Homo sapiens: one gene and its partners. The protein of the gene in region 2 interacts with the protein of the main gene of each other region in a biochemical or structural test. Each region holds a gene or a part of one and is shown on either strand. Other genes may lie near its edges. The genes, in order: EDC3, DCP1A, NSMAF and PNRC2.

Evidence for each region.
Region 1: the proteins of DCP1A (region 2) and EDC3 form a complex in vitro, tested with the Homo sapiens proteins (one study listed by BioGRID).
Region 3: the proteins of DCP1A (region 2) and NSMAF form a complex in vitro, tested with the Homo sapiens proteins (one study listed by BioGRID and IntAct).
Region 4: the proteins of DCP1A (region 2) and PNRC2 are reported together in a solved structure, tested with the Homo sapiens proteins (one study listed by IntAct).

What each region holds. Positions count from the first base shown.
Region 1 is NC_000015.10:74,664,471-74,672,908, forward strand, and holds part of EDC3 (enhancer of mRNA-decapping protein 3), read right to left. Parts: intron 7,305-8,438; coding exon 6,985-7,304; intron 239-6,984; exon of another isoform or gene 1-238. UniProt on the Homo sapiens protein: Binds single-stranded RNA. Involved in the process of mRNA degradation and in the positive regulation of mRNA decapping. May play a role in spermiogenesis and oogenesis.
Region 2 is NC_000003.12:53,282,929-53,288,543, forward strand, and holds the end of DCP1A (mRNA-decapping enzyme 1A), read right to left. Parts: intron 5,356-5,615; coding exon 5,137-5,355; intron 4,733-5,136; coding exon 4,652-4,732; 3' UTR 501-4,651; downstream 1-500. UniProt on the Homo sapiens protein: Necessary for the degradation of mRNAs, both in normal mRNA turnover and in nonsense-mediated mRNA decay. Removes the 7-methyl guanine cap structure from mRNA molecules, yielding a 5'-phosphorylated mRNA fragment and 7m-GDP.
Region 3 is NC_000008.11:58,593,293-58,601,730, reverse strand, and holds part of NSMAF (protein FAN), read left to right. Parts: intron 1-195; coding exon 196-286; intron 287-382; coding exon 383-446; intron 447-1,709; coding exon 1,710-1,761; intron 1,762-1,860; coding exon 1,861-1,981; coding exon of another isoform or gene 1,982-1,999; intron 2,000-2,234; exon of another isoform or gene 2,235-2,367; coding exon 2,368-2,499; intron 2,500-3,807; coding exon of another isoform or gene 3,808-3,828; coding exon 3,829-3,871; intron 3,872-4,180; coding exon 4,181-4,344; intron 4,345-5,655; exon of another isoform or gene 5,656-5,671; intron 5,672-5,874; exon of another isoform or gene 5,875-5,931; intron 5,932-6,071; coding exon 6,072-6,171; intron 6,172-6,876; exon of another isoform or gene 6,877-6,961; coding exon of another isoform or gene 6,962-6,993; intron 6,994-7,440; coding exon 7,441-7,499; intron 7,500-8,438. UniProt on the Homo sapiens protein: Couples the p55 TNF-receptor (TNF-R55 / TNFR1) to neutral sphingomyelinase (N-SMASE). Specifically binds to the N-smase activation domain of TNF-R55. May regulate ceramide production by N-SMASE.
Region 4 is NC_000001.11:23,954,457-23,963,546, reverse strand, and holds PNRC2 (proline-rich nuclear receptor coactivator 2), read right to left. Parts: upstream 3,720-9,090; 5' UTR 3,549-3,719; intron 2,619-3,548; 5' UTR 2,413-2,618; intron 2,108-2,412; 5' UTR 2,090-2,107; coding exon 1,670-2,089; 3' UTR 85-1,669; downstream 1-84. UniProt on the Homo sapiens protein: Involved in nonsense-mediated mRNA decay (NMD) by acting as a bridge between the mRNA decapping complex and the NMD machinery. May act by targeting the NMD machinery to the P-body and recruiting the decapping machinery to aberrant mRNAs.

The DNA of each region.
Region 1 (8,438 bases), on a different chromosome or scaffold from region 2:
GCCAGGACAACTTGTAACAAACCCATTGTTGTGTAACCCTCAGTGCCACTTATTTATTGGTTTTTGTCACACACACACTGTAAGTGGGAACTTTGTCCTGCACTTATCACACTAAAGGGTACCTGAATGTTAAACTACAAATGTTTTACTGCCAGATTAAACAGGCATCATGAGAAGGTGCCTGAGAATATATGGGACCTTCTTCTCAACTCTCAAATTCTAGGCCCTGGGTTTTCAAGCCTATTAGATATATGAAGCACATCCAAGGAAGTTTAAAAGTCAAGAAAACCTCAGTAGAACCATGAAAACCTGGCAAAATTCACTTCCTGCCTCAGGTGGTGGGATGACTGTTAAAATGAACAGACCGTTAAAGCCCAACCATACTGCAACAAGATAATATCGACCATCTTTCCATTTAAAAGGTTCAATTCCATCCCTCATTTCTCTCCACCTCCAGTAACAAAGAGAAAAAGGGAAATCAGCACTAAACAGAGGCACTGTCATGCCTATAGGACCACCTCTCTCTAAATATAAATGAGTTAAAGGCCAGCTATCTACTTTGTTTGTTTTGAGATGCAGTTTCACTCTTGTTGCCCAAGCTGGAGTGCAATGGCACGATCTCGGCTCACTGCAGCCTCCACCTCCCGGGTTCAAGCAATTCTCCCTGCCTCAGCCTCCCAAGTAGTTGGGATTACAGGCATGCACCACCAGGCCCAGCTAATTTTTTGTATTTTTAGTAGAGACAGGGTTTCGTCATGTTGGCCAGTCTGGTCTCGAACTCCTGGCCTCAGGTGATCTGCCCACCTCAGTCTCCCAAAGTGCTGGGATTAGAGACATCAGCCATCATGCCCAGCCTCAGCTATCTACTTTCATGTTCTACAGGCAAAAGAGCCTTAACTTAACTGTTAAATTTTTATTCAACTGCATGTTACAATGACTATTCAAGCTCATAGACTAAGATTTCAGAGAGGGATGCCTTTCATCTGCCCCTCATGGTCACCATTTTCAGCTGTGACATGGGATTTGATAAATATGAATTATACCCATACACAGAGCTGCACCCTAAACAAGGCTTGGTTTCCCTCTGCTCCCTGGGACTGATGTTATGTCTATTTGACAAACATTCTGAATGGTCACAGAAAAACTATTCTTTACATGATTCTTTAAACCCACTCCCACCCGAAAAGAGATTAAAATCTGCTTGTGCTAAATCATCAGTGTTGGATTAGCTAACTATTATAAACCAACAAATTCCTCAACTCCTTATTGCAATCCTGAAAGAACACTTAAAAGCCAGAACTGAAGACAGATTATATTTCTTTCTTTCCTTTTTTTTTTTTTTTTTGAGACAGAGTTTTGCTTTGTTGCCCAGGCTGGAGGGCAGTGGCACAATCTCAGCTCACTGCAACCTCCGACTCCCAGGTTCAGGCAATTCTTGTGCCTCAGTCTCCTGAGTAGCTGGCATTACAGGCACCCACCACCACACCCAGCTGATTTTTTGTATTTGTGTACAGACGGGGTTTCACCATGTTGCCTAGGCTGGTCTCAAACTCCTGAGCTCAGGCAACCTGCCCGTCCCAGCCTCCGAAAGTGTTAAGATTACAGGCATAAGCCACCACACCCGGCCGACAGATTATATTTCTATAGCTTCATCAATCTACTAGTCTCAATATCAATGTACATAAACTGGAGAAAATTCTAAGGCAGACCTTTTTACTTACAGGGCTCAATGAGTGGAAAAATAATTATAACTCTACCTTCTATCAGAAACCTATTCTGAGCCACGTCTTATTGCCATTCCCAGGCCACAAACATTTTCCAAACTAATCTGGATTCTACATAAGTTTCTTGAAAAATAGTAACATTTTACTGCCCTATGATCTCTTTACCTCATTTATGTACAGTTAACAATCTAGAAAAAGGAAACTGACAAAACAGCAAAAGCAGAATAACCAAAACCTGGAAGCCACCAAGATGTCCTGCAATAGGTGAATGGGTAAACAAATTGATATATCCACACAATGGAACATTATCCGTCAATTAAAGAAATGACCTATCAAGTCACAAAACGACATGAATGAATCTTAAATGCATCTTGCTAAGTGAAAGAAGCCAGTCTGAAAAGGGCTACATACTGTATGATTTTAATTATGTGATATTCTGGAAAAATGCAAAACTGCAGGGATGGTATAATAAAAAGATCAGTAGTTGCCAGGGGGAAGTGGGGGAAGTTGAACAGGTAAGGCACAAGAGATTGTTTAGGACAATGAAACTATTCTGTTTAATACTGTAATGACAGATACATGATGCTATGTATTTGTCAAAACCCACAGAATTTTACAGCACAAAGAGTGAGCCTTAGTGTTTGCAAATTTTTAAAAATCATTTAGGAGGTTAGAAGATCCCAGGATGGAATGCAGAATGTGATAAAACAAATTAATTGTATTATGAATATATGAAACAAGTCAATGAAGGAAATGGGAGACCTAAATAACTCTAGAAATGAATGGAGTCAGATGAAAGGCAAAAGAAACAGTACGTAAGCACCACATTCTGTTTGATAGTCTCCCACAGGAATGGCGATACAAGTTAATAATTCTGATACCACTATACATGTATACTGGAATTGAATAATTATGTAAAGAATGAATGACAATAGGAGACAGGTTTCTCACTGTTGGAGTGAGAAGTAACAGACAAGCAAAAGGAGAAGGCTAGAAGGATCCATGTGGTAATGGATTAAAGTTGGAGACATCAGTATGAACTCATACTTAGTATAGTACAATATACATAGTTACATATAGAAATATTTAAATATGTATATATATGCTGGTTAAATATACACACATATATTTTCTTTTCTGTGAACTCTGCAGAGAAGTATACACATTTTCTTGCTGTCAGCTATAAGGGTGACACCCAGGAGCAATGAGCATCCCTAGTGAAGAAGAAAGAAAGGAGAAGGGGGGAGGAGGGAGGGGGAGAGGGAGGGGGTGGAGGGAGGAGGAGGGAGGAGGAGGAGGAGGAGAAGCAGCAGCAGCAGCAGTAGTAGTAGTAGTAGTGGTAGTAGTAAGCATCTTTCAGTGTGAGAAAGTACCTAAGTACTAAAAAAAAAAAAAAATAAAATCCACAATGATTGGAGTATGTCAAAGGGACATGAGATCCAAGTGAAAGATTGGAGACTAGCCAAAACTGAAATAATTTGAGTACCAAAATAAAGTAATATTGAATTATAAGCCAAAGTATAAAATAAATACCCATGAGTACATGCTGATATAAATAAATGACTGAATAAATAAACAAATGGGGGAGAAGAGAGGAATCTCTGGCATAAAAGAATTCCAAGTAATGTCTGAAGATGCTGTGTCCTCAAGGAGAGGGGACATAACTTCTCACTCCCTGGGTGTGGGCTGCACATAGTGATTTCCTTCCAAAGAGTACATATGTAAAGGGGAAGAAAGAGTCACTTTACAGAGGAGAAACTAGATATATCCTACTTTAGCCAGGTGATCAAGGTGAACATCAAAAGTTATAAACCATGGTGATAATATATACACTTGACACAAGGTGATGAAAATGGTACTTTACCTCTGTTGTCTTCCACCCCCAAACATATAACCCCAGTCTAATCATGATTTAAACATCAAGTACCAACTGAGAGACATTCTACAAAATACCTGACCAGTATTCATCAAAATGTCTAGGTCATCAAAAACAAGGAAGGTCTGAGAAACTGTAAGAGCCAAGCAGAGAAATGACTACCAAATATGATGTGATATGCTGGACAGGATCCTGAAACAAGGGCATCCGGGTAAAAACTAAGGCAATCTGAATAAAATATGGACTTTGTTTAATGATAATGCATCAACATTGGTTCAATAATTATAACAAGTATACCATACAAATGTAAGACGTTAATAACGGGGAAAAATGTGTAGAAAAAAATAATATGAATTGCTAATAAGGGTCATCTTCAAGTGCACGGAAGATTATAAACTGCCTATTTGAACTTCTAACAAATCAACAATTTCTGCTAAAAGAAAAAAGATTTTCAGACAGGGCAACATAGTGAGACCTTGTCTCTACTAAAAGTAAAAAGACTAGCCAGGTATGGTGGCACACACCTGTAGTCCCAGCTACTCAGGAGGCTGAGGTGGGAGGATCATTTGAGCCTGGGAGTTCAAGGCTGTAGTGAGCTGTGATCGTATCACTGCATTCCAACCTGAGTGACAAAGCAAGACCCTGTCTCAAAAATGAATGAAAGAAAGAAAGAAAGAAAGAAAGAAAGAAAGAAAAAGGTTAAAGTCTAAATGGAAAGAATCATTTTCTATCCAAGCATTCTACAGTTTTTCTAAGGATACAGAAGTCACAACTGAATTTCAGTCTCATATTTGCAAACATCGTCATTTCAGATAGTTGTTTCATATGCACCAAAGGAAACTACCTTGAAACTGTATATTACATACATTAAAACATTTTTTTAGGCCAGGTGCAGTGGCTCACGTCTGTAATCCCAGCACTTGGGGAGGCCGAGGCAGGCAGATCAACTGAGGTCATGAGTTCGAAATCAGCTTGGGCAACATGGCATTATCCCATCTCTACTAAAAATACAAAAATTAGCCGGGCGCAGTGGCTTATGCCTGTAATCTCAGCACTTTGGGAGGCCGAGAGTTTGAGACCAGCCTGACCAACATGGAGCCCCGTTTCTACTAAAAATACAAAATTAGCCAGACGTGGTGGCACATGCCTGTAATCCCAGCTACTCGGGAGGCTGAGGCAGGAGAATCTTTTGAACCCAGGAGGCGGAAGTTGCGGTGAGCCAAGATCACGCCATTGCACTCCAGCCTGGGCAATAAGAGCGAAACTCTGTCTCAAAAAAAAAAAAAAAAAAATTAGCCGGGCATGGCAGCAAGTGCCTGTAGTACCAGCTTCTAGGGAGGCTGAGGCAGGAGAATCACCTGAACATGGGAGGTGGAGGTTGCAGTGAGCCAAGATCACACCACTGCACTCCAGCCCGGGCAACAGAGCAAGGCTCCATCTCAAAAAAAAAAAAAAATTAGTTTTAATTTAGTTGTTTATTCACTTGAATCAGGCATCTCCAAAACTTAAAATGTTGGCCCCTGACACAGGTGTCACACCACAAGCTACTAATAGAATTCACCCAGCACACTAAAACCTTACTACATTGCCACCAGGACCACAGTGTGAGGAGCAACAATGGTAGCAAGAAGTATCCGGAATTTTATGTAATAAACTTTCTGAGTGGGGTCTAGAGAGACCTAGCTCACTCTAAATTGTGCCTTTTAGAAGGTATTGCCATAGCATGACTCTAGCTTATAATTTTAAATGAGTTAATGAATACTCATTTAAAATTTCTTTTGGTTGTTCATTTTGAGACAGTCTCACACTGTCACCCAGGCTGAAGTGCAGTGGCATGATCTTGGCTAATCACAACCTCCGCCTCCCTGGCTCAAGCCATCCTTCCACCTCAGCCTCCTGAGTAGCTGGGACCACAGGTGCACGCTGCCACGCCCAGCTAATTTTTTTTTTTTTTTTTTTTTTTTTTTTGTAGGGATGGGGTTTTGCCATGTTGCTCAGGCTGGTCTCGAACTCCTGGGCTCAAGCGATCCACCTGCCCCAGCCTCCTGAAGTAGTGAGATTACAGGTGTGAGCCACTTGCACCCAGCCTCTCACTTAAAATTTCTAATACATTCTGCTACCATCTGTGAGTACAAAACCATCTAAGTAAAATAAGAATAGTTTGGCATTTGGAAGTAATTTTTTAAAACAACATTCATATTAATTTAAGGAGCATAACAGATTCCAGTGAATGTTATGATTCGCTATTGTAACATTATTCTAGTAAATATGTTGGAGAAGAACAGTTCTAGTGAATTAACTATGGTTTTGGAAGGCAGCTATGCTCACCATCATACCACCAACACAACTATGGTTTTATTTTATATTATTTATTTTATTTTTGAGACAGAGTCTCGCTCTATCGCCCAGGCTGGAGTGGCACAATATCAGCTCACTGCAACCTCTGCCTCCTGGGTTCAAGGGATTCTCCTGCCTCAGCCTCCAAAGTAGCTGGGATTACAGGCATGCACCTCCACGTCCGGATAATTTTTGTATTTTTAGCAGAGACGAGGTTTCAACATGTTGGCCAGGCTGGCCTCAAACGCCTGACCTCAGGTGATCTGCCCGCCTCAGCCTCCCAAAGTGCTAGGATTACAGGTGTGAGCCACCGTGCCTGGTCACAACTATGGTTTTATAATCAGCAAATGGCATTTAATAATGTGTTAGTATCAAACAAAACTGGGCAGCAACAGAGACCAATGCACATTCTTCTTGGTGTGTCAGTAGGAACAAATACAGCAAATTAAAAATTGTCTGCTAGAAAATCAAAGATCACAGAGATGTTTGGATCAGTCCCCTCCTCTCTTCTGAGGATGAGACTCAAATCACAGGAAGAAAAGTTACTCAAGAATCCTCTGGAACAGCCCAAGTGCAGGTTCAACTCAAACACTACTACCAACATCAGTAACAGGATTTAAGTTTTTTTTTTTTTCTTTTTCAGAAACAGAATCTCACTATTTTGCCCAGACTAGCCTTGAACTCCTGGGCTCAAACAATCCTCCTGCCTCAACCTCTCAAGTAGCTGGGACTATAGATGCGTGCCACCACGCCCAGTAGTTCCTGGATTTAAAACATCACTGTTAGTAAACTCTGGGCAGACTTTTCCTGAAGGAAGTGGTAAGAGAGGGCAGGAAGCTCACAGGCATCCCTAACAGCTTATTTCCTTTCCCTTAACATCTTGAGGAATGAGGCCTGGAGGAAGAGAACCATGTTGTATTTCTGTGACGCTCAGCCAGCATCCATTTTATTGGAATAACAAAGGATTTGTTTAAAGAGCAGCAGTGCTTATGGCTTATAGCCCTGAAACACCAGATTGAGAAGAAATATCAACTTGACCCTACTTACAGGAGTTGTGCCGACGACGGAAACTTTTGGACTGACTCAAGGATTCCATGTGCCTGTCGACATAGCTCTTTGAGCACTGTTGCTGCTGCGGGGAAACGGCAACATCCTGGCTCTTCACATCTGTCCTCTTAGGGATATTCTGAGGGGCACTGCTGGAAGAGGCTGGCTTCTTGACAAACTTGCCTGTGCCATTCTGATTGATGCCCACTTGGCAGCCAGCACCAGAGGGGCCTAATTCTGTTTGATGAAGGTCTCCAAAATGTTGGTTGTCTCCAGGTCCTGGTATCTCCAGAATTTTTAACTCCGTAATGTCACCTGCCCTGAAATACACAAAAAAGCCAAGTCTCAAAATTATAATAGTGGTAAGAATGATGAAACTGAGATCATTAGCAAACAGCTACCCCTTTGCAGGACTGCATTTTATTGAGTTATCAGAGGCTAGGAAAGGGGGCTGTGTGCTTAAGGACAGGGGTCAGCCACCAACTATCCAACTGACACAATGCTAGCCTTTAAAAAGAGGCTATTGGCCGGGCACGGTGGCTCACGCCTGTAATCCCAGCACTTTGGGAGGCCGAGGCGGGCGGATCACGAGGTCAGGAGATCGAGACCATCCCGGCTAAAACGGTGAAACCCCGTCTCTACTAAAAATACAAAAAAAAAAAAAATTAGCCGGGCATAGTGGCGGGCACCTGTAGTCCCAGCTACTTGGGAGGCTGAGGCAGGAGAATGGCGTGAACCCGGGAGGCGGAGCTTGCAGTGAGCCGAGATCCCGCCACTGCACTCCAGCCTGGGCGACAGAGCGAGACTCTGTCTCAAAAAAAAAAAAAAAAAAAAGAGAGGCTATTGCTAACAACAAAACTGTATTAATCTTACATTCCCACAATGTTTAATGGCTTTTGTTCATTCATTCACTCCCTCGCTCATTCAACAGGAGTATATAAAATACTTACTATGTGGTAAGCCCTGCACTATGAACTATTTTGATCTGGTATATAGAGATGAAAACCACTACGTGCCCACAGGAACTCAGTCTGGTCAGTGGAAAAGACAAGTACATATTCAATCAAAAGTGTTAAATGGACTGGGCACCATGGCTCATGCCTATAATCCCAGCATTTTGGGAGGCCGAGGCAGGCGAATCACTTGAGGCCAGGAGTTCGAGACCAGCCTGGTCAACATGGCAAAACCCTGTCTCAACTAAATAGAAATGATTAGTCGGGTGTGGTGGTACGCACCTGCAATCCTAGCTACCCAGGAGGCTGAGGCATGAGAATCGTTTCACCCTGGGAGGCAAAGGTTACAGTGAGCAGAGATCGCACCACTGCACTCCAGCCTGGGCAACAAAGTGAGACTCTGTCTCAAAAAAAAAAAATTTTTTTTTTTAAGTGTTAAATGTTATGACAGAGGTGTGCATAGGAGACTAGAGAGCCTAAAAGCAAAATATTTAAGTCAGT
Region 2 (5,615 bases):
CTCCTACGCTGCAAACTTGTACAGCATGTGACTGTACGAATACTGTAGGCAACTGTAACACAAGGATAAGTATATGTGTATCTAAACACAGAAAAGGTCGGGTAAAAATAGGGTTGTAATTCTATGGGGCCACTGTCATAAATGTGGTCTGTTGTTGACTGAAATATCACATGGTACATAACTCTATCTTCTCTCAGGTCTGTTTCTCTGGAGAACCCTGACTATACAGGCTGGAAACAGGTAGATAACAGTTTTCTTTTTTCTCTGTGTCAGACAGGTAATATGCCGACATTGTAGCAATGTTTCAGGATGGCCCATCTCACACCTGTGTGTGAACACCTAATCCTTATGCTTAAGAAGTACAAAAGGATCTGATAACAGTTTTGTCGGTTCTGTTTTTTTGCCTCATCCCATTTCACCAGTATGGCACTCTGCAAAAGTGCAACTCATTCAAAAGTCCCTATTTCTACAAATTAAATAAAAACACAATTAAATTTTAGTAGGTGCTAAAACTTGGTTTTGAAATTTTATTAAAAAAATATATTTGCAAACATATAAAATTTAAGATGAAAAACGCTCATTTTAAAACATGTAATAACTTAATATTTGCAAACATACACAGATGCTATAAAATCCATACCATTAAAAATGTTAATGATACAGTATTGCGCTCATGGAACAAAAATCTTGCTGTAATTCCAGAGCTTCTCGTCCCCATGTTTCAGGGAGCTGAGAATCTGGTACAATGAAAGTCATGAGAGCCACATGGCCAAAGCAGTAATACAGAATAAAAAACCATTTAGAACACATATTTTAAAAACATGTTTCTTAAGGAATCACACAGATAAAAAGGAAACACAATTCTGCATTTTCCCCACTTTGAAGTGAATGATATTGCATCTTAGCATTTTAAATGAAGGTGTCAAATACAAAACGGAGGGAATCACTGCACACATCTGTTGAATTTGCTGAAAAACAGGCTCCTCAAGGCCCTGGTCCACTCGGAAATGTTCTCAAGCACAGCTGTAAAAAAGCCTAGTGTAAGCTGCTTGACTTTGCTCAGATCTTAGCATTTTAGAGACTTGAGAACACAGGGCACTATTGGTTCCAGAAGATACACTGAACGCAACTGAAGAAAACTGAAGGGAGGCAAGAAAGAAAAACATACTCTGCAGCAAACGTGCAGCCAGGATGCAGGATGCGCACCCTAGGATTCCTCAGTTCTCCTCACTCACACGGGCTGAGCCCACTCGTGCCTGTGCCACCTCTCATTCCTCTCAGAGTTACAGTATGATGGCTGATTTTGTTTTTTGAGCAGTTAGGCACCTTCAATTTCATGTTGCATTATTAGTAATACAATGGCAGTTAGGGCCTCTACTATGGAAATGAGAAAATTTCAAACTACATTCTTTGGGGGAGGAGAGTAATAAAGCTGCATGGTTTAAAAATTTACCTAGTAGTGGATTTGATAGGGTTTATATAATTTCTACAAGAAAACATAAGCCAGGAAAAGGACAAATGCTTGACATGCAAAATCTGGTTAGACATATACTAAACTAAGCCTGTGTGTCCCCCTGTAGAGAGGGGCCCAGCGTGACTTTTTTTTTTTTTTTTTTTTTTTTTTTTTTGAGGTGGAGTCTCACTGTCGCCCAGGCTAGAGTGCAGTGGTGTGATCTTGGCTCACTGCAACCTCTGCCTCCCGGGTTCAAGTGATTCTCCTGCCTCAGCCTCCTAAGTAGCTGGGAGTATAGGCGCGTGCCACCACGCCCGGCTAATTTTTGTATTTTTAGTAGAGATGGGGTTTCACCATGTTGGTCAGGCTGGGACTTGGGTTCTTAATAAAATACCACTCTCTGTGATGGCTACATCTAAGCCTTTGAAGGTGAGCTGTGGACATACCACATGTGGACAGCATGAAATGCTTCTTCTGACACTGAGAGTCACTTGAAAAACTTGAATTCAAAGTCAAGCAGGCCAAATCTCACACCTCATGAATCCCAGGAGGTACACAATGAAGAAGAGCTTCTGCCTTAAAGGAACAAGGCTGTCTGGGAGGCCTGAGAGTCCATTAAAAGACACCGCATTAACTACAACAAAAAGAAGAGCAGCACCACCCACCAGTGGTGCCCCAGACACACCTCTCCTCCAAGCTCTGGGCTGCTCCTCTTGGAGTCTACACTTAGACCCTGGGGGTGGGGGTGGGCACACAAATGGACAGAGTGGTCTAAATGCAGGTCTCCTGGGGTTCTGCGAAATCTAGCCAGAAGCATCTCCATCTCGGTGTCCATTTCGATCCAACTAAGCTTCCAGTAAAGACACTGCAGCAATGTAAACATGCAACCTAAGCTAGCATGAGGTTCTAGATAGTAAGCCTGAACTAGGAATAAGGCAACTGAACTGTGACTTTCGGGCCAGGGTCATCCAGCTGCAATTATCCAGGCTTGGCCTGGCTTCTCTAGGGATTCATTCTGGCCTGAACTTCCTGGTAATCATGACATGAACTTCTGGCTTCTGAATTTTAAGTAAATACTTTGAATATATAAATTTGGGAGGTGAAACAGGTTTACCCTTTTCAAGTCTCCATGACTTGGGCACTTAAGTTTACTTTCACACTAAGGAAGCCTTATCATAGATGCTCTTTACTGTCTATCATATCCATTCCTAGCATTAAAGGTGAAAATTAGTATGATCACAGACTCTCTTTAGGATATTCTCTCTTAACTCTCTCATAATATTACATACTCAAAAGCATAATTTCGATTCAAGAATCCCTTGATTCGTCTGTTCACCGAAGCCCACTGAGACTACACTTGAGGTGCAATCACACCTACTGGTGCGTCCACTTTATGGAAGTCACGTGGCTCCCTGGACACCATCTCCCGGTGTCAGCAACACTCTGTATCCCACTATAGCTTTCTCGTTCCCAGATGATGCATAAGGAATTCATTTTTGGTTGCTTAATTTACATACTATCTGTGAAAACAAACTATTCACAATTGAGCATGAAAACTTATAAGCTTCCCTGAATTCTGCACAATTCACACATAATTAGGTAGACAGCAATAGAAGACACTAAAATGAGAAGCAGAAACCCTGTCCAGGAAGCATGTTTAGATCAACAAAAGCCAATCATTCTTTATGCTAAAAACTAAGACCAAACTAAAACAAGTATGTAATTCACAAGTAATTTTCTAAAATTTTAGCTAGAAAAAAATAATCTATGGACTTATGATTGAGTTACCATTAAAGCTTAAATGATTGTTCCTAAGGAACCATCATATCTGTCAGCATTATTCACAGCTAATCCTTATGCTAGCTGGTTGAGCCAATTGGGTTTTTACCCCATCATTAAATAGTGCTCAGAAAAGTAAGCAGTGCATCTTAATTGGTTAAATACTACAAAATGACCTGTATCATAGAAACGAAGACACTTTCATTCAAAGAATATCTTAAAATTACTATTGCTGAAATAAATCAAAATCTACATTAAAATATTACTAAACACCATTACATGCCATAAAAGAATAAATAGAAATCATGGCAGATCAATAGCAGCATAACAAAGCTTCTTTACATATTTTCACACTTTGGGCCGGGAAAGTACTCACAGCCTAGGAATACATTGGTAGAGTTCGGAATCACATTTTCTTTTAACTCCATAATTCTACAACAAAATAAGGGCAGTGTGAATAACAGCTCCCTTTTCTGCATAGCTTTAAAACTATTCTCAGTACACTCAAGGAAAGGAACCAGAATGGCTTTGTCAGATTGGTCCACTGGTCCTTTTGTCAAAGTGTTAAGGAAAACAATCAACAATGACAGAAAAGGAAAATAAGGCTGTGCTTCACACACAAACTTAGCATTTTCAGAACCAATGGAGAGTTTAACCTAAAATGAAGATTTGATAGGATGTGGGCATTCCCAGCCCCAGCCTTTCCTTCAAAGGTATGACATGCCTGTGTCCACACCACCAGAGCCTGACAGTGCCCTATTCAAATGGTAATGCTGCACTGGGGGCCTGCTGCAGGGCAGGACTGGGGCACTTAAAAACAAAATGCTATTAAGAAATTTCACAACTTTTAAGGCCCAAATGGGGCATTCATATAAAATATACTTCACTTGAGGAAATAATTCCTAATTTGCCGGCTTAAATTCTGGTCCTAAAAACTAGAAGCTACTTTGCAGAGCTGCCTTCTACTCTGTTCAAAACTTGACTTGTCAGCCCAAAGCCCGTTTCTATGGGGTAGGCTGGGGGAAGCGGTGGGGGCCGGGCTGAACTTCTGCTGTGAGGCTGGTGACTACTCCTCTGTAAGTCCTTGAAAGTGAAAGCAAGCTGAGAATCTGACTCCTTATTCCACAGCCTTGCTCCTAGCTGATGAAAACACCCACATAACTTAACACAATGATCGCTCTCTTTTTTTTTTTTTTTTTTTTTTTTTTTGTCAAAACAAGGATCTGCTGGTGATGCTTCACAGTGAAACCTCCATTATCACTGAGAATGTCACTTGGAAAACATTCTTAAGAAATGAGTCTCTTTCTCATAGGCTCAATTTCAGGATTCTCAAACTCAATGTTCTGCTCAGAAGTTTCCATGATGAAGCCTATTTGTCTCTGAGGCTGGGGCTCTGCCTTTAGACTTATTCTGCTCCAGTCATAGGTTGTGGTTGTCTTTGTTCTTGGTCAGAACCTGCAAGTAGACTTCATGAAGTGTACTGAGGAAGCTGGAATCATTCTAGAAGAGATGGTAAAGGTTAAGGATACGAATGCCACATTTACCTCATCAGATTTTACTTCCTTGGTAACAGCTTAGGAAAAAAATTGTATAAATGATTTGTATAACTGATAATCCCACCACCCAGAGACAATCATGATTAATATTTTGAGTTCATGCAGATATTTCTCCACCAGGACTGTATGCTTAAAAAAAGAGAAACAGTACTCCCAGCTAGTCTGTTTTTGTTTTTTTTTTGCCTGCCTTGGCCTCCCATAGTGCTGGGATTACAGGTGTGAGCCACTTTGCCTGGCCTCCAGCTAGTCTTTTGAATTTACTTTATGAACTGATTCTGTAAGAGGAATTTATAAAATTTCTTTCATTAAATAATGAAAAATCAAAGATAAAATTGGTATCCTACATACCTTTATTAGATGTATTAATGTATCCTGGAGCTGAGACTTGCTGAGAATAATGGAAGGCTTTCTCTGACTTTCTGGCGTTCCAATAGTTAGAGGAGAAGGGGAGCTGGCTTTCCTCTCAAGGTCCGAAGATCTTGTAACTGTCTGCTGGAAAACACTTGGGGCCAGCAGGACTGAAGACACTGCAGTGGTCGTTGCAGTAACCAGTGGGGCGCCTGCAACCTGGAGAGTGACAATGGTCATTTTGTACCGAAGTGCAGAAGCCAGTAGCCAGGCCCAGAATAGGGACCATGTGGAAACAGGCATAAGCAGCAGAAGAGTGGAGCACAGAGACAGACTATTTTGAGTTCAGGTAAACATTCAGTAGGAACATGTGAACATCTGACATCTGGTTATAAACTTCCATTAGCTAAAGGATGACCAGCCCATTTATGTAAGAATGTCCTAGAATCATTACGGGAAGCCAAGTCCAACCACCACAG
Region 3 (8,438 bases), on a different chromosome or scaffold from region 2:
CCAAAATACTTGTCTCAGGAATGCTGTTTAGCCACAGATTTTCTTTCCCTCTTATCTTCTCCTTTTCTTATCTAACAGAGAAATTAAGGAATATGGTATATCTATGTTATGATTTCTTTTAGGCTTTTTCTACTTGTCAGTTATTATTTCATAGCCAACACTTAGCTCTATTTTTTTTTTTTTTCTGTATTCTAGACACGCTACCAGGAAATGCCTGAACCAAAGTTCATGTATGGGAGTCACTACTCTTCCCCGGGTTATGTACTTTTTTATCTTGTTAGGATTGGTAAGATTCTTTATCATTACCCCCAATTAAATTTTATTTCACTGTATTCTTCAATGATTCTGTGACCTGACTTACCTCTGACTTTTTCCCCTCTAGCACCAGAGTATATGCTGTGCCTGCAGAATGGAAGATTTGATAATGCAGATAGAATGTTCAACAGGTTTGATACAAATGCCTTGCTTATCATTTTTAACACTTTCTGATTGTATATATACAACATACTTGTTTCAAAGCACTGGATATAATAAAAAAGTAAAGAAATGTAAAAAATCACTAATTGTTCTATCTATTCCTCTCAGGCTTTTTCTAGACATGTATATGTGTGTGTAAATGTGAGAACATATTTTATGTACAGCTTTTTGTCCTACCTTTTGTAGCCTAATATTAAATCTTAAAGTTTTTCCCATATTATTAGATATTCTTCAAAACAATGATTCTTTTTTAAAATTATTGTATCACATTCTAACATATGCCATATTTTATGTCAACTTCTTTTCTCCATTGTTGGGCATTTAGATTGTTTCCCACACTTTATTATTCTTGATAATTTTGCTGTGAATTGAATACAGCTCCCTGTGTGTATTTAGATGGCTTTACTTTTTAAATTATAAAAGTAATATTTTCTTGCCAAAAAAATCAGCAACTATAAAAAAGGAAATAAGTTTACTTGGTATCCCACCACACTGAGATAATAATTGTTGTAAATTTTTTGGTATGTCCTTTTCATTTTTTTTGAACTCTACACATATCTAATAATAATTCCTTTTGCAATGAGCCATTCAGATAGTGGTGCTAATCTTTTTTTTTTTTTTTTTTTTTTTTTGAGACAGAGTCTTGCTCTGTCGCCCAGGCTGGAGTACAGTGAGCAGAATCTCAGCTCACTGCAACCTCCGCCTCGGGTTCAAGCGATTCTCCTGCTTCAGTCTCCTGAGTAGCTGGGACTACAGGCGCATGCCACCACGCCCAGCTAATTTTTGTATTTTTAGTAGAGATGAGGTTTCACCATGTTGGCCAGGATGGTCTTGATCTCCTGACTTCGTGATCCACCCGCCTTGGCCTCCCAAAGTACTGAGATTACAGGTGTGAGCCACCGCGCCCTACCAGTGGTGCTAATCTTTCAGTGTGGAGGCACCCTGCTCCATTTGGCCCTTGGATGAGGCAATGTGTATATGGTAGCTAATGGTGTGGACTCGGACTCTATGCCCACTCCCGCCATGTGACCCTGGAGAAGTTACATAAACTCTCTGGGCCCCAGTGTTCCCTTTTGTTAAAGTGGGACACTCAGAGAGATGGTTAGAACTATGTGGAAATGACAAACAGAAGTTAATACAGGTAAAGTGTAGAACAGCCCCCAAGTGCATAGGAAATGCTGCTATTGCTATTTCCTTAGCTGAAAATAGGTGAATTTTTTTTTCATATGTAGTATTGCAGAAACTTGGAAAAACTGTCTGGATGGTGCAACGGATTTTAAAGAGGTAAGCAGTTAATAAAGCTGATGAGTAACTGGACTTGGGGTTTCTAACTGCTTTAAAACATGTTTGTTGTTCTTTTTTATTTTTCCCCGAAACTTTCAGTTAATTCCAGAATTCTATGGTGATGATGTGAGCTTTCTAGTCAATAGCCTGAAGTTGGATTTGGGAAAGAGACAAGGAGGACAGATGGTTGACGACGTGGAGCTTCCCCCTTGGGCTTCCAGTGAGTCCCCCCTTGGAGGTGTTGTATTATAGACATGCTTTACCAAGTAGTGCAATTTCAGTAATTATTTTATTGCTTAGATTTTTAAAAATCACAATATAATTCTCTAAATAAGGATATATGAGCCCTATTCCATATCAGAAGTATTCTATGAGTCTGTGATGTAAAAACATTAATATATATTTGAGAGACCTTAATGTGAAAATGATTCTTGCCACTTTTTTCCCCAAAAAACTTACATTTCATATGATAGAAAAAGAAAACTGCATTAAGAAATATGGACCTCTTGCCTGTCCTAGAAGCTTTATATACATATAGATAGACAAGAGAAATGGGAGGAAAAAAATGAAGACTCCATGATTTTTCGATTGAGTCTAATCTAATAGGTCCCGAGGACTTTCTCCAGAAGAGCAAAGATGCATTGGAAAGCAATTATGTGTCTGAACACCTTCACGAGTGGATTGATCTAATATTTGGCTACAAACAAAAAGGGAGTGATGCAGTTGGGGCCCATAATGGTATGTAATATTCATTGAAATTTTATTTAGCATTGGGTGAATATTTAGCATTATTCATTTTCATTGGAAAATGAAAGCAAACAATACCAACAAAAAAATGAGGCCAAAGCAATTAGTCTTATTTCTTCAGTGGAAGCATGTTCTGTCAGACTCCAGCGTCCACTGGCTGCATGACCCTGGATCAGATATTTTTTTGGTTTTCTTTTTGAGATGGAGTCTTGCTCTGTCACCAGGCTGGAGTGCAGTGACACAATCTTGGCTTACTGCAACCTCCGACTCCCTGGTTCGAGTGATTCTACTGCCTCAGCCTCCCGAGTAGCTGGGATTACAGGCACCTGCCATCATGCCCAGCTAATTTTTTTGTATTTTTTTTGGTCGTGACGGTTTCACCATGTTGGCCAGGTTGGTCTCAAACTCCTGACCTCAGGTGATCTGCCCACCTCGGCCTCCCAAAGTGCTGGGATTACAGGTGTGAGCCACTGCGCCCAGCCCCTGGATTAGATATTGAGTAACTGACAAGGAGGGAGGACTTTTGCCCAAATAATACCAAATTCATCCTGGCCCCAAGAGGTCTTTTTATAAAGTCTTCTAATTTTAGCATATACTCTACATCCCACTGAATAATTTCAATTAAAACTCTATTACAGTGTGATAGAACAGTGGCCTCAATTCCTATGGAAGACCCAGAGTTTCTTTTCCTTTTCTTTTCTTTTTTTTTTCTTTTTTTTTTTTTTTTTTTTTGTTTGAGACAGAGTCTTGCTCTGTCACCCAGGCTGGAGTGCAGTGGTGCAGTCTTGGCTCACTGCAACCTCTGGCTCCTGGGTTCAAGCAATCCTCCTGCCTCAGCCTCCCAAGTAGCTGCCAGAGTTTTTTTTTTTAATTTAACAGAAAATAGCAGCAATATACCTTCTCTTCAGTTTCAATGCTTATCTTCTTCCACGTTTCTCATGTGTGTTTTCTTTTTTTAATAAATGAACTCACATATAATCCATATCGCCCATGTTCATAACAAGGAGCTGTAGCTGGAAATTCAGACCTAATTTTTTACATGGAAATTCCGTCTTATTAATTCTATAAGTCATGCTTCCTCTCAGGAGAAAACAATGCTGACTGAGATGACAGGTCCTCTACCTGACAAGTAGATTTTTGTTCATCTGAAGATAATATTCAAGTTGGTATTTACTGCAGTTGGATATTAGTCTGTTTTGCAAAGTGAATAGCAATTTCTTTGAACATGAGTTTTAAGTTGTTGCATTGTTTAGGTTCTAAACAGTGTATATTACATTGAAATAGCACATCTTTCAATAGTGTTTTGTATGTCTTTTTCAGTATTTCATCCCCTGACCTATGAAGGAGGTGTAGACTTGAACAGGTACTTATATGTCAATAAGGAGTTTCTACTTGAGTTATAAGATATGTCTTTATCTAAATTATTAATGTATTTATTTGAAGGTTGAGGTATGGAAATTTTAAAATGAATTCTATCTTGCTTTCACTGTTGTGTTACTGAGCATCAGAAAATATTCTGAAGGTCTATAATGAGGTTTAGACAATCCTGGTACATAGTTGCTGTCATTATTTGAGGGTTAGTCCCTCCTATTGATCAGTACTATTTGAAATGCGTGCTTTCAAGGAACTCGAACCTAGTGGTTCACTGCATTATTTGTGTTCTGTCCCAAAGCATCCAGGATCCTGATGAGAAGGTAGCCATGCTTACGCAAATCTTGGAATTTGGGCAGACACCAAAACAACTATTTGTGACACCACATCCTCGAAGGATCACCCCAAAGTTTAAAAGTTTGTCCCAGACCTCCAGTTATAATGCTTCTATGGCAGATTCCCCAGGTAAATTTTGTAAAGAGAATAAACGTGAGCACCTTTTGTTTCTCTTCTGTGATGAAAATGTTTCTGAAGAGGAGATAAGACGTATACTGTTGTGCTACTTAGAGATGATTGTGTTCTCCTGCCTTATTGCAGTTCTCCTGAAAACAGATACCTGTTTTTGCTGATGTTGTTTGTTTTCAGCTATAGACTGTAAGGGAAATCAAATCGCTTTTATTTTCTGGCAATTGAATATGAGTGAAAGTTGGCCATATATGTTTTGATGTGGTTCTCTTTCTCTTCTGTGGTTTTGAAGCTGGTGTTTGATCCTTAGCTATTTGCCTTTTCATTCTTACAGTCCTAGCTGTCCAGTCTGCCTTCCCAGTCACTGTCAGCCCTGCTGTCTTCCAGAAGGGACTTTCTCTGGCCCTAATTATGCTCTTCTATACCCACATACAGATCTTTTTTTTTTTTTTTTTTGAGACGGAGTCTTGCTTTGTCCCCCACGCTGGAGTGCAGTGGCGCCATCTCGGCTCACTGCAAGCTCCGCCTCCCGGGTTCACGCCGCCGTTCTCCTGCCTCAGCCTCCTGAGTAGCTGGGACTACAGGCGCCCGCCACCACGCCCGGCTAATTTTTGTATTTTTAGTAGAGACAGGGTTTCACTGTGTTAGCCAGGATGGTCTCGATCTCCTGACCTCGTGATCCACCCTCCTCGGCCTCCCAAAGTGCTGGGATTACAGGCCTGAGCCACCGCGCTCGGCCCCACATACATCTTGAATTCAAAGTGCTCTCTCTTCTTCATTGGATTTCACTTATTTAACATTTGACAAACATTTACAGGGTATCTGTTCTGCGCTGGGCATGTGCTAGGCACTAAATTGAACTTGACCCAGTTCTCACATCTAATATTTGGAAAGGTAGGAAAGAACACTCACCTTTCTCCAGTTACCCAGGTTTTAGATTTTACCTAAGACAACTTCAAACCTACAGGCTTCCAGAAGGAGGTTGACACTCTGTGGAGCTTTGGGAGCAAAATCACTTTTTATCTCCTATCCTCCTGTCTGTTCCAAGGACATCCAGACATTTTAGGCATACATAGATGAGCATTCTCTCAAGCATGGAGAAATAGCTTCCTGGAGTTACATGACCCAGGGGTAGCTTCTTTAAGAGAGAATACTCTAGAGGGTTAAATCATGAAGATCACAGGATTATCTTGTGATGCTGTTTCAAACTGCACTCTGCTTAGTCACCAGGCTGTAACCACTGTCATGTGATTGTTTTAAGATGGTAATTGTTTCAGCCCTTCTTAAAGCAGAAGTAAAAGGATTACTCCTGCCAGAAGCCCTTGCGGTAATTGATTTCATCTCTGCTTTCCCCACCCCACACCAGAACAAAATTGTTGCATTCTTAGGCAACTGTCAGGTTTTTGAAACAATGTTGACAAGGAAATGATGACTCAGTCTTGTATTTCCCCAAATTCATAAGTTAGAGGCCGAGTGAAAACTTTGCAAACATTGTTAAAGTATAAAAAGATTCTAGTATTATTCAAAGATACTTTTTATCTTTCTCTATACAATTTTTTCCTTGACTAACGTGGAACCATCTAACAGGTACATTTCAAAGCAGTTATATTGTGACAGGGTGTTTCATTTCTTAGTTGTTTGATTTTAATAGAAAATATTGTTAATCTGATGCTGTTGTCTGTTGGTAACTTAGTTGACTTAGCAAAAATTTAATGTCGTCTCTCCAGGTGAAGAGTCTTTTGAAGACCTGACCGAAGAAAGCAAAACACTGGCCTGGAATAACATCACCAAACTGCAGTTACACGAGCACTATAAAATCCACAAAGAGTAAGAATATCTCTGCTTCTTCTCAGCAGCTGATAGTCCTGGTAAAAGTTAGGGTCTTGGCATGGGATTAAACTGTTTTAAGCTGAGTCAGAGGGAAAATTCCCTTTCAATGTTGTCTTTATTTTTAAAAATCTCCCCAAAATGTCTATAGTGATCTCCACCTGAGGTTGATGTAGTAGGGAAAGTTTGGCACGAAATGATTTGTGGTGGCTACCGTGCTGTCATTTCTGCAGTCTGTCACTTCACAGTACAAGATGTGGTCGGCAGAGAGCAGCCAGTTTTGTGCCTCTCAAATTGGAGTACACAGCTCCTTGAATCTTTGATGGGAGAAGTGTGATGTATACCCCACGAGTGTTGGATTTACACATAATGTAGGTGAAAAGGCACCTTTTAAAAAAATTAGCTCTCCCAGAGAACATTGCAAAGTTCACATGAATTTTAAAAATAATTATGCTTCTAAGAAATTGGGCTTGCTGTTGGACCCAGAGATGATATGTGTGTTCTCTGCCCTCTCTCATTAAGACCTTCATGTTCTCTGGTAGAAAGGCTCGAGAAGCACTGACCTAGCCTGTTCATCCTGCTACAGAGAGGAAACCCAGGTCCAGAGACTAGGCCCCACCTAGCTCCATGACGACAGACAGCCCCTCCGGCATACAGGTCATGGGTGGAGCTGGGCATACTGCTGTGCATTAGATGGATGGCTTCACATCACAGTCCAGCCTCCCGAAGAGAAACAAGGAGTTTTGGCTGATTCATGATGACAATGGCTGTCTTTTCTCAACTTCTCTAAATGGCACATAGGAAGGGACCTTGTAATCCAAGGTAGTGAAGACTGAATGATCCTTTAAGAGGACAGGCTGGAACCAATTTTCTCATCATTGAATAGTCACTGAGTAAATTAGCTTCAGTAATCAGCAAGTGAAGTGACTGTGAAGAAGAGTTTGTCCTTTTGGTGATGGTCAAACGAGGGGGAATAGAAGGAGAAGAGTTTTCCAATTGCCAGAAATTGTCAGGAATATGTAAAGCATTGCATGTGGAACACAGGGAAGCAAAGAGTGGGGATGTTTTCTAGCCACAGGCGTTGCCAGAACGTTAGAAGGTGCCAAGCAGTGATTTGGTAATGGCAGGTTTATGCTGGGACAGATCCGGCAGACATGCTGTGAAGAAAAAAATTAAGGAAACTTGGTAAAATTAAATCAAGGATATGAAACAAAGAGGGTATCCTAACACATGATGAGTAGTAATTTGTGAAACTTTGTTTTTGAGCAGAGCAGTTACTGGAATCACGGTCTCTCGCAATGGATCTTCAGTATTCACAACATCCCAAGGTCAGTGTTCCTCCCCGAAAGGCGGCTTAACCAAAATCCTAGAATGTCTGAGTTCTTTATTATTTAGCTCGTGGTCAAGGACTGCACTTGCATGTGCTGCCTCCACATAAAGTAAACTTAGAGCAGTTCCTTTGTGGTACATTACATAGAGTTTCATGGTAATTTGCCAAAAATAATAATGAAACATCTTTCTGTTGCTGATGAGGTTTCCCAGAGTTGAGGATAGAGGACAGAAACAGCCTCCTTTCCACACCCTTGCTGGGTCAGGCACTTCCTGCCTGCCCATGAGAGGTGCGCTGTCCACTTGTTGGGGTTGGCTGTGAGTAGCAAGTGCTGTATCAGAAATTGATGTGTGCCTGTCAGCACGTGGAAATGCAGATTTGCTGTTACGGTTTGCAGTTTTGTCATTCAGTGTATATTTCTTCGGGATATTTGATTTAGCTCAAAATCAAATTCATGTATTATTTAATATGCTTATACATTATCAAAATTATAAAAACCCTTGCAGTGTGTCATTGATATGACTTATAGCTGTAAAGCAGAAAGCATCCCTTACTATATACACCATTGTTCTCTCCCTGGTAGTCTGCATTATATATTATTCATTAAAGTATGTCTTGGCCTTGTCATGTTGAGAGCACTGTGTTGGCACTCTGGAAGATGCAGAGATGGAAGGGTAGTATCTTTGCTTCCTGCTTCCATGAGAAAACAACTTGTTCTGACAAAGTTTGTAACTTTATAAAGTAAGGCTACTCGTTATTTAGTCTTTATCATAGGAGATTATATTTTTCATTCATTAAGACAAAGTGCTATCCAACTAAACACTTTCAGGAAAATCAGAATTACTACTCTCAGATTCTGTTATCATTGTTTATGATCTGTAGCATTTCATTCTGTTCTTTTTCAAATACTGTCTTGGATTGTATATAAAAAAATTTT
Region 4 (9,090 bases), on a different chromosome or scaffold from region 2:
TGGAATATTGTGAGTGTATTATGAGCTTCAAGTCAGTGACAAGTAAAACACATTTTTAAAAAGAATATTAAGCAATCAAAACCATTTTTAAAATAAAACCAAGCCAATGGGGAAAAATTTTATTTAATTTTATGCTTCACATTCATATCATGTACATTAAGTACTACATAAACTTGTCTTTAGGCTATCAATATTTAACTTGGGCAGTACTTCATCTTGATTTATTTGGAGAAATACAGCTTAGGCATCTGCTTACCTGCTTAGGCATCAAGAGGTGCCAAATTAGAAAATAGGGCATTAACAATCAAAATTTTTAAGCTGACCCACATACTTGCTACTGGTTTCGCTTATGTTTAAGCATTTAAAGTTGGCAAAACATGTTATCAATGTATTATGCAAGAGTTTACATCTTTTGCATAAGTGGTCCATTGGGTTGCACCTACCCCTTGACCAAACAAAAACAAAACATCACTGGCACCATACTCGAAACTACCTGTATCCTAGGTTATAAGATTGTGAAAGCCAACAATCTATAAGGTTGGAGGGACTCTAGTTAATCTTTGGGCTTAGAGGAGGAAAAAAAGATAGTCCCATACTGCATTTCACATCTCTTAAAAATAGTTTTAGCAGCTTAAACCTTTTTAGTTATAAAACTTATTACACTAGGGTTTACTTTGAAATATAGTTTACAACCAAATCAAGTATAACATACATACACTGGCACTTTAGCACAAGGGCAAACTTTAAAAACAAGTTATTTTGGACCTTTAAAATTAGGCCATATTATAAAAAACAGTCCACGGTCTTACATTCAGCAAATTCATACTAAAATACTCCATTTTTGTAAGATAAAGGCCAAGAAAACTTTACATATGCTACAAGTTTATTACAGATATTTACATGGCTCTTTCTCCCCTAGGTACTTAAAATTTTCACATTATCCAACTCCCCAAAGCAAGCTTTGCAGGAATGATGAGGCCAGAGCACTATTAGAATAGCTTGTGCAGTGCTGTAATACAAAAATGTATTTTGAAAGCTATTGAGTGACCATTAAATACTGTTTCTATAAAAAATGGTTTTGGTGTATTTGTTGACAGACACTTAATCCACTACATTTAATAAACAGGGCCATTGGGGTGTACTATGTCTCATTCTAATGAGCTCCAAATGCCCTTTCCACCCACTGTACAATTCACTAAAATGCAATTATTACGAAAAATTCACATTTTCTTTCAGCAGTGCATCAGGTTAGCATATTACTGGTTTGGGTGTTTCTAATATACTAAACCTTCAGATGTTTACCTAATTCTGAATCCTTGTGTTAGCTAGAAGCTTATAATCCGATTCACCAACTTTCAACAATCTACTGGTCCATGAATGATAAATTACTGTCTTCCCCTAACAATAGAAAAAGCTGATTCCTTTACCACTCCCCAAATCTAAACTTGGTTTCCACTTAAAAGTTACTCAGTTGAGAACACTTAATATCAAGTACAATCATTAGTTTAAGTTGCACTGATACTACCATTATATCACAGTGCACACAACACGAGATGGTCTATTTTTTTTACATTAATTAGTTCTACACAAATAGATTCCCTAGCGAATTTGTTTCAGACCAATTGACAACTATCCGTGAACATAACTAAATTTAAACATTTGTCTTATTTTATACCTGTACTTTAAGTAAGGTTTTAAGTTGAAATGTCATTATTTCCTTATCTGAAGGATTAAAGGAAACAGGGACCCAGTGGCTTGGTGGTTTGGGAAGAACACTTGGTGATGGCGGCTCACTAAATTTGGCACCAGCATAGTTCTGATTAGCTTGAGATTTAAAAAGTAACCTGGGACCTGATAAGCTAGAATTCCAACTTTGATTATTTGGAAAATTTTTGTTCTTCCCCCCATTTTGCATGGCCTGCCAGGCAGCTGCTGATGAGTTATAACCATGTCCTCTTTCTTTTTTCTTATGAACAATCTTCATCTGGGAATTCTGTTCCTTGGTCTTCTGTCTGTTAAGCTGTTGTTGGTTCTTACTAACATTTCTAGATTGAGGGGCTGGAATGTTATACCTCTCTCCACCACCCATCTTCAGCTTCTTTGTCACCTACAAGTGAATGGAAACAAATATTGAGTAAAATTCCATTAAGAAAAGTTCAAAATCTTTAAGAAGCTTCTATGGCTCCAACTTATAACTCCAGATATTTTGGACAAGACTCAATAACAGGCTATTCAGCTGCTTTAAACTCAAAAAAGCAAGCCGTTCAGACTTCAATATATGCACAACCTTTATTGTTATACCTTCCCTAAGAAAAATGAGCTTACCCACAAATCTACATAATCTATTTTAAAATAAAAACAATTGGTTTAGGATGGTTCCATCATAAAATGTTTGCCCATTATGATGATTACCTTTCAGTCTGCTTTTCAGATTGCAGGATCTCCACTACCTGTCCTCTTCCTTGCTGCCAAGCCCAAGATAACAAGTGTTGCTTTCTGACAGATCCCTTCCTTTGTCTCAATACAGAAGTTTTCATGGGCCGATCTGCTGAGTTCAGCCTAGGAGCTGAGGCCAACATCTGAGTCTCCTCAGCACACAAGTTTGAGAGAAGTCCTAGCTAGAAAAGTAAAGATTACTTCATTATTTCAAAAACACGTTGAGAAAGTGATCATTTAGATTTACTACGAAAATCGTTGACTGTAAAGAAGGCTACTTCCTGAACTAAAAGGTAGAAAATTTCTCGTAAGATGGCTTTCTTTGACCTTATAACCACGACCATTTAAAAAAACTCTTCACCCTTGAGATCCAGTCACTCCTGGGGAATTTTTGTAAGTGTCTCCAAGTCCCGCAATAAGTTTTATCTTTATCTTTTTCCTGGGAAAGACCTTCAGATTCTCTCGCGTATAAAATCAAGGAAGTGTTAAATGTTGAGTCATATCAAAAAATTGGCTTCAGGCGGATTTTCTAAAGAGACCGTGTTTTTAAACTCCCACCAGAATTTTCCAATCTTTCCACACATGTCACATCCATTTTCAGTCTCTTGGAACATGTAGACATCACGCAGTGTTTCCTTTGGTTATGAACGCTCTCGCCTCCTCCCCGTCTTAAAATAAGTTCTCACAAGCCCTAACAGTCTAAGCCCATCTTAAATATATAAAAATGTCTCCCTAGAGGGAACAGCTTAACTTTCAAGGTTTGGTTTTAATTTGATGTTCCAAGAAAATAAGTTACCAAATAGTTAAGCCCCCTCCTTTCAAAGGGGTAAGAGAGCTTTCCAAACAGATAAACAACCCTAAATAAATTGCCATTTCCGGACTGTGAGTAATTCCCAACTCGAACCCGGAAAACGCCTCCTCCGACGCCACAAGGGCTTGGCTTCCCAGTGGCCCCATCTCTCCGGAGCCGCAGGGGTCGCGGCGCTGCGACCGCCCGTGACCGCCCGCGCCCGCCCGGGTTACCCGGATCTCGCCTCCGCTCGCCTCCTTCCTCCAACAATGGGGAGCGCGGCCACCAACATGGCCGCGCCCTTAGCGCAGCCGCTACTTACTGACTTCAAGCTCGGAACTAACGCGGCAGCGGCTCCCTCTCGACGTCGAAGCCTCCCTCCCTTTCCAGGGAGAGACGAGGCACGGACCGACAAAGCCCACGAACACCGATGAGCGAGCTGCCGGCCACCCCAGCTTCTACAACCCGACCTTCTCCTTCTGCCTCTACCGACAAAATGGAGTCGGCAGCGACTGCAGAAGCAGGGCCGGGAGGCTCCGCGGCCAATCAAAACACGACAGCGCGGGCCTGGCCAATGAGAAGCGGGCCGCCGCCTGTTGCTGGGGCTGGCCGGGGGCGAAGGCGCGGAGGTGGGGCTGCAGAGGGTTTGAAATCTGCCCGGGGAGGAGGAGCATGCCGGGAGTAACTGCTCGGTCCACCGGTGTCTTAGTCCTTTCTCCGGCGGCCTCTCCGCGCCCCTGGCCCGCCGAGGCCCCGGCCGCTAGCTCTCGGCTCTTCCTACCGCTCGGCTCTCGTGCGCGCGGGCTCGCCGCCCTTGGGACTGCCCTGGGGGAAAAGACTGACCGGCGGGGGACGTTTGGTTCTCGAATTAGGGCCACTGAGTCCTGTAGCCTGTATTGACAGATGGAAGATACTCCGGAAAGCCTCTTGCCAGGGCGCAGCCCCCTCCCGCCTCGGGCCTCGGCTTCTGGGTCGCCTCTCTCCCACACCCACAACTCCGCGTCCGAAGCCGGCGCCTCCCCGCGGTTCCCTCCAGTGCCCCCACCCTCCAGCCCCGCAATTACTCAAAAGTTGCCTCCCTGTGAAGGCGGTTCAGACACACGCGGGCAAGTCAGTCACTTCCTGCTTGGTGGCCCCATTGGTCCTTAAGTTCAATTAGAGCCCTTTACGCGCCGTGTTACCGTTTCCTGTGGCTGCAGCTCTCCCCACCCACACACCCTCGAGGGCCACAACCGGTTAGGTTTTGTTTCTCTGAGCACAGCGCCTTCGCGCGTTGTAAGTGCACAGTAAGTTTGCTGAAAGAATGAGGACTGCTCTCCTCCCCTTTCTGCCCCACTTGTAAGTGAAAAAGGGGAAGAAAGAGAATATTGTTCAGTTGATTATGCCAGCCAGATGCAGGTAAGGGGAAAATGGCAATTTCTTTGGAGTAAATGTATAAGTAACCCAATGTGAATCTTTTAAAAGAGCACTAATTTCAATGAGCGTGAATAATTCTGGGCCAAACGGTACAAAATCAGTCTCATTCACAGTTTGTTCGTGTATACACATATATACCCAAGTTTACGTTACAGAATTTATATTTACCAACTTTTTATAAATCTCATGTAATTCGTTATTTTTGAGACGGAGTCTCCTTCTGTCGCCCAGGCTGGAGTGCAGTGGCACAATCTCGGCTCACTGCAACCTCCGCCTCCTGGGCTCAAGCGATTCTCCTGCCTCAGCCTCCTGAGTAGTTGGGATTACAGGCGCCTGCCACCACACCCTCCTAATTTTTGTATTTTTAGTAGAGACAGGATTTCATCATGTTGGCCAGGCTGGTCTCAAACTCCTAACCTCACGTGATCCGCCCGTCTCAGCCACTCAAAGTGCTGGGATTACAGGCGTGAGCCACCACACCCGGCCTGTATTTCGTTTTTTAATCTTCAATTTTTTGCCACCGTTATCCCCCACTTCCCAATCCAACCCAAATTCCTATATTCTAGCCATTGGATCTTAAGAAAAGTTACTGCATCTTACGGGATGCAGTTTGTTAATCTAATTTGATAAAAGAGGTATTTTTGAGCATAGGGACTTTCTGATGCTAATCATATTCAAATAAGAAGTATGTGGTAAACCAACAGGTGTCTTAGTGAAAGTGTAATCTGTTTTCCAAACATTCAAGAAGTTTGCTTAGACGTCTAGCCAGATAATAGCCAGCTGTATTTAATGAATTTTTAATGGTGTCACTTTAAAAAACAAAAAACAAACAAAAAAACACTTCCGTGGCTCCAAATTGTGATACGGAATAAAATCTAAACTCTAAACGTTTAGAAAATTATTCAAAGCCATTGCAGTCTAGAGTTAGTCTTTTCATGGCAGGGCATGGCTCACACCTGTAATCTCAGCAATTTGGGAGGCCGAGGCAGGAGGATCACTTGAGCGCGGGAGTTTGAGACCAGCCTGGGCAACATGGCAAAACCCCATCTCTACAAATAACAATTAGCTGGGCATGGTGGCACACGCCTGTAGTCCCAGCTACCTGAGAGACTAAGGTGGGAGAATCACCCGAGCCCAGGAAGTAGAGGCTGCAGTGAGCTGCGATCACAACACTGCACTCCTGGGTGAGAGTAAGACACTGTCTCAAAAAAAAAAAAAAAAAATTCATCTCTTCAGCCACTCTGAATTTTATCTGCATAAACGCACACATAACATTGGAAATGTATAAACCCACACAGAGTATCCTTACTCTGCCCCCTACCCTGTGCTAAATTTTTTTTTCTTACATCATTTCATTTAATCCTCACAATAATGTTGTGAGGTAGGAGCTGTTTTCATCCGCACTGTACAGATGAAGGCTCAGACGGTTTCGAGTTGAAAGCCAGGTACTAGGATTCAAGAGGCCAGGCTGCAGGTTGCCTGCAGCATCTGTGCTCTCCAGCACCTAAAAGGTTTTTTGCTCAGAGCAGACACTGACTGTTGACTGGGCTGCCGGGGCTGTTCGGGCAACAAGAAGCCTCCATCCTACCATCTGGCAGAACCAGTTTCTTTGCCAGAAGGTCAGAGTCGAGATGCCCTTGGGGAAAGCACTGTTAAAGCTTTTACTGCGTCCCAGACTCCCAGCACCCTCTCAGGCTAGCTCCAGCCTCATCATTCATTAGTATTTACCAAGTGCCCGCAACAGCTCAGAACTAGAGAGGAGAAGTTAAAATAATACCTTTTTTGGGACATCTGATACAGCCTCTGCCAGAACCATATGGTCTTTAAACTCAGCTCCACCAGCACAATCCTATTAGCAGTTCTCAATTCAAATAGGAAAATGTTGATGCCGACAAACAGCTCTCAGGATACAGCTCACCTAAACTGGAAGCCAAATGCATAATAAATACATGGATGTTTAATACAAAATATTTAGCAAAGATTTATCTGGTGCCTACTTTGTGCCAGGCACTATGCCACGCTCTGGGGATACAGCAGTGAAGGAGGCTCCATCCTGGCCCTAAAGGAACCCAAAAGCTGTTTCCTTTACAATTTACCAGAGAGGGAAACTAGTGTCTGGGAAGATTTATTCCCTCCCTTCTTCCCCTGAGAGTCAAGGACAGGCAAGGCCAAAATCAGCCTGCTAACCTCACTCAGGAGGTGCAGGTAACAAACATTGTTACTGGACCCTGCAAATAAAGTAGAAAAGGAGGGGGACTCTCACAACTTGCTGAAATTTTTTCACTGGAGGATCTGTTTTGAGCTATGTATCAGTGGCAACCAAAATCAATGAAATCATTAGGAAAACATTATCTACCTAATCTGTAAGTAGAGGTGGAGCAAAAAGCAAGTGTTTCTGGGCCGGGCACAGTGGCTCACGCCTGTAGTCCCAACACTTTGGGAGGCCGAGGTGGGCAGATCACGTGAGGTCAGGAGTTCGAGACCAGCCTGGCTAACTTGGTGAAACACTGTTTCTACTAAAAATACAAAAAATTAGCTGGACGTGTGGCGCATGCCTGTAATCCCAGCTACTTGGGAGGCTGAGGCAGGAGAATCGCTTGACCCCGGGAGGCAGAGGTTGCAGTGAGCCGAGATCGCGCCATTGCACTCCAGTTTGGGCAACAACAGCAGAACTCTGTCTCAAAAAAAAAAAAAAGAAAGTGTTTCTGAAAGCCCAGCTTTGGGGGAGAGACAGGTTGTAGGCTGAGGCATACAACTGCACCAGTGCCGGGGTAGTTGGAGAAATCACCCAGGTTTGCCATGGCTTTGGAATAAGTATATAGTAGAATCGACTGGCCTTCAGGCTGAGTCTCAGTTTCTTCATCTGTAGAATGGCAATCCTCCCTGTCTTGTAGAGCTCATGGTAGGAGCCAATGAAATAATAAATGTAAAAGCACTTTTATGATGTAGATTTAGAATACACCTGTAATTCCAACACTTTGGGAGGCAGAGGCGGGAGGATCACTTGAGCCCAGGAGTTCAGGACCAGCCTGGGCAACATGGTGAAACCCCATCTCTACAAAAATTACAGAAATTAGCTGGGAGTGGGAGGTGGTGTGCCCCTGTGGTCCCAGCTACTTGAGAGGCGGAAGTGGGAGAATTCCTTGAGCCCAGGATGTCGAGACTGCAGTGAGCCATGATCACACCACTATACTCCAGCCTGGGCAACAGAGCAAGACCCTGTCTCAAAAATAAACAGAACATGCTAAAAACGTTAGGTACTTTAATATTATCCCCCAACTCCACCCCCGCCCTAGCGAGTCCATTTCAAAACAAAAGCTGGTTTGGTTCTTTTTCTTCTTTAAGCTCATATATGAAATCAGATGGTCAACTTTGAATGTTTTTGCAGGTCTGTCCGCTCAGGGCTTAATTCAGTTTGAAGAAGCAAGCAAATTCTTAGAACCTGCCAGAAGAGTGAAATGGAACACCTGCCCACTGTTTCGATGTGCCTCAGAGCTCTGATCTTGTTGCCAAACTGATTGCAAAACACACACCCCTCCCCACACCATGAATTCATTTCCTGGGGAAGCATCTGCTGCCTCCCTGCTTGCTCAGACATTCCTGAGAAGTGTCAAATCTGTTCTTAACCATTGCAGCCATTTTGGTCTAATTACTAAACGGGGCACAGGAAGTCAATGATGAACTCCCACGCCTCCTGTCGACGCTGATCCAGGGGTCCAACCTTCAAGACCCTTAAAGGATTCTGATGCCCAGACCCCATCCCAGAATCAGAATCTTTGAGCACGGGGCTGCGGCTATTCCAATCCAGTTGATTCCAATGTCTCACTCCAGTTGAGAATCACTGCTTTCAGTTTTGCTAAGGGCAATCCCCTGGTGTGGAGGCATGTTTATGAAGGAGACCCCCTTTGTCCTATGTAATTCTCAAAGTTGGTGATAACACCAAATAACCCCAACAAGTCAGAAACTAGCTCCGGAACACCCAGAGTTGTTTAGATTAGCTTTTAAAAGTGATTTTCACACAGGTGGACTCCCAAGCTCGGCCATGGGGTTCCTTGCTAGTTTGTTGATCCCAGCCGTCTAATTCTTGGCCCATTCCAGAGTTTTGGCCTCAGTCCCCAGGCCAAAGCTGAACGGAGAGACGGGCAGCGATCTCTCCAATGGCTGAACGGAGAGATGGGCAGCGATCTTGAGAGGAATTTATGAAACAGGCTGAGACTGCTACCTGCATTGATAGGAAGAGGAAATCTGGAACACACCGTGCTCACTCCCCCCAAAATAATGGTATATCGGAGCCATCTATTTACATGTAAGACCATAACAATGCCTGTCCCCCAACTATTCACACCTGTGGCATGAGGAAGAGACACACCATCCCCAGCTCAGAAATAATGGGAGGCTCTAAAGAGAATCAAAGGAGACATGAAACCACTGAAGCTCCCACACAGTGT